Linked DNA regions of Homo sapiens: region 1 is reported to be linked to region 2. The links are microRNA targets in miRTarBase. Many come from high-throughput screens and were not tested one by one. Region 2 holds a microRNA gene; the other region holds the end of a gene's coding sequence.

Evidence for each region. Region 2 holds the annotated microRNA hsa-miR-5011-5p (UAUAUAUACAGCCAUGCACUC, at 1,165-1,185, opposite strand). A microRNA usually pairs through its seed, bases 2 to 8, with sites in the 3' UTR of a target mRNA and lowers its output. Matches are read on the target gene's strand: a 7mer-m8 pairs with bases 2 to 8, a 7mer-A1 pairs with bases 2 to 7 and ends in A, and an 8mer does both.
Region 1: miRTarBase lists TSNARE1 as a target of hsa-miR-5011-5p. The part of its 3' UTR that is shown has no 7-base or 8-base seed match.

Annotation. Positions count from the first base shown.
Region 1 is chr8:142,227,017-142,230,016 of GRCh38, reverse strand. It overlaps TSNARE1 (t-SNARE domain containing 1), which reads left to right. Exons shown (of 14, transcript NM_145003.5): 13 at 438-544. The coding sequence ends at 533. Among named protein-coding and RNA genes, the nearest start is that of LINC00051, 30 kb to the right of the region's middle.
Region 2 is chr18:67,079,642-67,082,791 of GRCh38, reverse strand. It overlaps MIR5011 (microRNA 5011), which reads right to left and starts at 1,208; the gene lies at 1,106-1,208.

The DNA.
Region 1 (3,000 bases), not on the chromosome of region 2:
GCCAGGCCCCAGGCTATGTAGTTTCCAGGCATCACCTTAATTTTAAGGCTTTCAAATATCTCCATGGAGTCCATGGCATCATCTTATCCTTACAAAATAATTTAAGGTACCAAGAAGAGAAACAGCCGAGATCCCTCAGCTCAAGATGGACAAAGCATGAATCACACCCATGCCTGGCTGACTCTGGAGCTTAAGTTGAGTCTCCTGCCTCTCTCCCTTTGAACCTGGCTCCAGAGCCAGCCCAGAGCAGTTATTCAATAAACAGTCATGCTAGCTCAGGACAGAGCCCCTTGAAAGACACAGGTTCTCTCTGGACCCTGCCCCAGGGTGGACTCAGCCCCTGCATGCCACAGCCCAAAGTATGCACAAGCCAAATGCCCCTGAGGATGGGAGGTTGGAGGACCAGGATATGGAAACAACCTCTCTCTCTCTCCCAGCTCCAGAGACACAAGATCAAGTGCTGCTTCCTATCAGCTGGAGTCACTGCCCTGCTTGTCATCATCATCATCATCGCCACCTCTGTCCGAAAGTGATGCTACCCGTGGTGAGTACCCCACCTACCCGTACACCATCCATTCATCTGCACATCCACCATCCATTCATTCACCTATCCACCATCCATCTAACCATCCACCATCCATCCATCTATCCATCCACCCATTTATCCACCTGTCTACCGTCCATCTGTCCATCCATCTACCCATCCACCATCCATCCATCCATCTATCCATCTGCCATCCATCCATCCACCCATCCACCATCCATCCATTCATCCATCCATCATCCATCCATCCACCCACCATCCACCCTTCTATCCACCCATTCACCATCTGTCCATCCATCCACCCTCCATTCATCCATCCACCTTCCACCCATCTATCCACCCACCATCCATTTATCCATCCATCCTTCCATCCATCCATCCATTCATCCATCCATCCACCCACCCACCATTTATCCATCTATCCACTCATCCACCCATCCATCCATCCATCCATCAACTCATCCACCCATCTATCCACCATCTGTCCATCCATCTACCTTCCATTCATCACCCATCTATCCATCCATCCACAATCTGTTCACACATCCACCTAGCTACCATCCACCCATGCACCTGTACACCATCTGTTCGTCCATTATCCACCCATCCACCATTCATCCTTCCACCCATCCATTCATCTATCACCTATCCACCCATCATCCATCTTTCCATCCTTCCTTCCTTGCATCCATTCATTCTTCCTTCCTTCATCATCCTCTATGTGTTTGTTGAGCATCTCCTTTGTGTTAGGCATGGGATGGGCTCTAGGGACCCAGTGGTGCACATGGCAGAGGGGTGCCCTGTGTTCTTGCAACTCAGAGCCACTGGGGCAAGGCCACCCTGAAGCCTCTCTTTTCCTAGGCACTGACCTCCAGAAGTTTATGACTGGCAATTTCTCTGGGGCTAGCAGTCAGTGCACAGAACATGTTGGGCCATGTGGTGAGTGTGCATTCGGACCGGAGAGGAGAGGAATGAGGCGTCAGTGAGGAGAGCTCATCAGGAAGCTTCACCAGCTCCTGTAGGCAGGGAGGAATGGGTACTGAGACACATGGCTGGCACTGGAGCATGGCTGTCCCCAGGGCACAGGGCCCTGGGCTGCAGCCGGGCAGGGCTGGGACAGAACATGGGAAGGCCCTTAGTGTCCGTGGAGCCTCTGAAACATGTTAAGCAGGTATATCCATTACTGGTACTGCATGCCAAGTTAGCTTAAAGCTTAGTGGCTGAAACCAAATCAATGTTTGTTATCTCACAGTTTCTGTGAGTCAAGATTTGGAAGCGGCTTAGCTGGGTGGCTCTGGCTCTGGGTCTCTTGTGAGACTGTAGGTAGATGTTGGCCATTGCTGCATCATCTGAAGACTCAACTGCGGCTGAAGGATCCATTCAAAGCTGGATCTGCGTGTGGCTGACACTGGTGCTGGTTGCTGGTGGAATGGAGGCTCAGTGCCTCTCCATGTAAACTCCGGGAAGGCTGGCAAGGGAACAGGGTGGATGCCACCCTTGCTCAGTTCTGCAGTACTCGGCTGCTCACTCAAGGCTGCCCTACTTGAGTCTTACTGAGCACTGGAGACTCCCATGGTTGGTCTACTGTGTGCCAGGCCATGTGTTGTACATCCATTATCTAAATTTATCCTGTAGCCTCCTGAGGAATGCGGAGGCAGAGCCCAGCCTTCAGGGCCAGCATGGCCAGGACAGCATGGACTGAACAGGTCTTGGATTTGTGTGAAGACACACTGTGAACCTTCCAGATGTTGTTTCGCATCCCTGGGGTCTCCCCAGTCAGCTCGTCCCGCAACAGCAGGGCTTCTGTGTGTTCACATTAGGCAGGGCATGTGAAGACCCCAGGTGGCCTTACCTCATTTGGGTCAGCCGAGGTCTTGCTACTAAAATCCTGGATGGCAAAGAGAACTCCTGGTATCCAGAGCTGCTGGTGTTGGGGTTGTGGGCAGAATGGGGGGCCTGGCTGTCACTGGGGTTATGGGCAGGAATGGGGGCCTGGCTGCCATTGTGGTTGTGGGTGCAGTGGAGGTCCTGGCTGCCACTGGGGTTGTGGGCAGGTTGGGGCTCCTGGCTGTCACTGGGGCTATTGGCAGGATGGGGGTCCTGGCTGTCACTGGGGCTATGGGCAGGATGGGGGTCCTGGCTATCACTGGAGTTGTGGGCAGGAAGGGGGTCCTGGCTGTCACTGTTGTGTGGGTGCAGTGGAGGTCCTGGCTGTCACTGTGATTGTGGGCAGGATGTAGGGCCTGGCTGTCACTAGGGTTGTGGATGCAGTGGAGGTCCTCACTGTCACTGGGGTGTGGGCACAGTGGAGGTCCTGGCTGTCACTGGGGTGTGGGTGCAGTGGGGGTTCTGGCTGTCACTATTGTGTGGGTGCAGTGGGGTTCCTGGCTGTCACTGCTGTGTGGGTGCAGTGGGGGGCCTGGCTGTCACTGCTGTGTGGGTGCAGTGGGGGGCTT
Region 2 (3,150 bases):
TAATATGTGTAAACTAAAATGCAAAGGAAGAAAAACCCAACAAAGCAATTTCTCCACACGTTACCTAATCCACAACAAATGGCTTCTGAAGTTTACCTCAAGTAAAGGCCATAAATATGACTCTTTAAGGTAGAAATCTTAGAAGTAAGAGTTACTTAGCTTAATGCCCTCTAGGTTTATCCATATGTATTTCATTGTAGTGTTAGTAGCAATAAAGTATAGAAACGACCTAATTGCTCATTGAATGGTGACTGATAGTGTTACATATACAGCCATGCACTGTGTATTGCATCAGTCAACAAAAAACCACATATATAAATGTGGTCCAATAAGATTACGATACTGTGTTTTTAGTGTAATTTTTCTTTGTTTTGGTATGTTTAGATGTACGGATGCTATTGTGTTACAATTGCCTATAGCATTCAGTATAATAATAAGCTATACAGAGTTGTAGCCTAGGAGATACAGTCTATGTCATATTGTCTAAGTGTGTAGTACGTTACACTGCTGTGGGACAGGCAAGGCCCCAAACTGGGGCTTAGCCAGGGAGGATTTCTTGCTTAACCCCGGAAAAAATTCAAGGATGAGCTAGGAGTCTTAGCAATCGTTTATTGAATGGTACTGCTCCTTGCAGAGCAGGGCTAAATCATAGGCAGTGCAATCAGAGTCAGCAACATATGGTCTCTTGGCAACGGTATTTATACTCAGCGAGACCCACATTCAATTGCATGCAAATTGAGGGGTGAGCCAATGCAAATTGAGGGGCAGGTTGTTTAGAACTTTCTAAGGCAGGTCAAATGCATGCAAATTGAGGGGTGAGCCAATGCAAATTGAGGGGCAGGTTGTTTAGAACTTTCTAAGGCAGGGGCAGTAACTTTTAGGTTGTTGCCATGGAAAGAGGTGGTAACTTCTGGGTTGTGTTGCCAGGCTGCTCATATTGCTCATTAGCATAAGACACTACCACCAGCACCATGACAATTAAATTGCAATGAGTAGTTAGAGATTGCTTTTGTTGACATCTGCCACTTCCTATCAGTTTCTTCACTTCATGCTCTCTGGCCAGATCCTGTTTTGGTTAGCAGGGTTGTGACCAAAAAAAAGTCCTGCTGAAAGATGAATGGATAGTGTTATATATACAGCCATGCACTGTGTACCCAAACTACAGAGTGCATGGCTGTATATATAACAGCATCCACTCAATACCATCTAGGTTTGGATAAGGACACTCCATGATGTTCAAACAATGATAAAATTGCCTTAAGGTACATTTCCCTGTTAAGCAATGCATGACTGTGTGTGTGTATATATGTATATGACCATGAAATATTATTCAGCCTTAAAATAGAAGGGGATTCTGCCATATGAGGCAACATGAAAGAAATAAGTTCTATTGTTGGGGGTGAATAGCCATGAGAGTGGAGAAGGCCATCAGTTAATCCATGGTTTGTGGCATTGGCCAAGCATGACAAGCAGTGAAACCATATTCAAATATGGAATCAACTTTTCTGACGATGACAACAAACAACTGTTGGCTTTACTATACAAGTCAGAGGCAATTGTAAGGCTCTTTGTTGTTTAATGCCCCACAGGTAAAACTTTTCTGTCCAGGGAATATTCTAGAGCAATACTGTGCAAGAGACCATTGTGTGATAACACGTGTTCTACCCTTGCATAGTCCAATATAGTAGCCTGTAGCCACATGTGCCTTTGAGTATTTCAAATACAGCTAACACAATGGAGGGACTGACTTTTTAATTATTTTAATGTTTAGTTAATTAAACATTAAAATTAACTTTAAATAGCCAAGTGTAGCTCCAAGAAACATCTGGAGCTACCAGGAACTGGAAGAGATAAGAAAGAATTGTCTCCTAGAATCCTGGATTAAATGCAATCCTGCCGACACCCGAGTTTGAACTGGCTTCTAGAACTGGGGGAGAATACATTTCTGTTCTTTTAGCCATTTGTTTTATGCTAATCTGTTATGGCAGCCTGAGGAAACTAAAACAGATGGCTTCGGGGAGAAATTTGAAACAGAAGCAAGAAGTAAAAACAGTAAGAAACAAACAAGTATGTATTCATCACAGAGGTACAGAAATTAACCATCAAATATCCCAGGCCCTAGGGGAGGAAGTGCCACGGTGGCAGCAGCGCTATCTCATCAGACTGTTCCTGTGGGGGGATTTTACTGCCATTCTGGAACCTGGTTTCCATGGGGCTGCCCTGTTCTGAGCCTGTTTCTTTAGCCTTCCAATAATTATATGATTTATCCAATATAATCTATTACCTGGTTTAGGTCAATTGGAATGGATTTCAGTCATCTACAACCAAGAACACTGACAGGTATACTAACACCTGTCAGATAGTATTGTGAATTGTGGGGAAAGTGTTCCTAAACATGACAAAACACAAGAAAGCATTAAAAAATGGTGACAGATATGAGTATTTATGAGTTAGTTAATAAACATATATGACAATTTATATGGAAAACAAAGTATGTGATGCATGATGGATTAGGAAAACATACAATATATGTAACGAAATGATATACAATGTCAATATTTATTTTTAAGAAGCAATACTAAATTACAAAATAAAATATATACAATTCTATAGGAATAGAATGCAAATTACCAATACATACATGAAAATTAGAAAACTTTTGCAATTAGAAAAATATAAATCAAAACAATAGTGTTATACTACTTTTTTCTGAAATTAAATTGCAAAATTAATATATCCAAAGATACTCAACATGATCCATATTAGACATGGATGTGTGAAGAAGGCACTCCAATCTAGGTTTTTAAGGATATAAATTTGTAAAGCCGTGTCTCAAGAATGTGTGACAATAATTCATGAGTGGCAATTTAGTATACGTTAAGCTTTGATCCAGGTAATTTAATTAAGATCTATCTACAAAGATAAACACACTTGCACACAAGTTTCTAAGGGTCAGATGGCTTACTGTACAATTTTCAGGATGTTATTGTATCATTGGTCACATCTTAATTTCTTAATTGTCCATGCCCATGGTTTTATCAGAGAAAATGAGCTAAGAACCCCAGAGACAATGGAGAGTTTGCAATGTAGTTTTTCTTTAATTTTTCATTTTAAGTTCAAGACGTCCGAAGGTGTATCTACTGGCTAGAA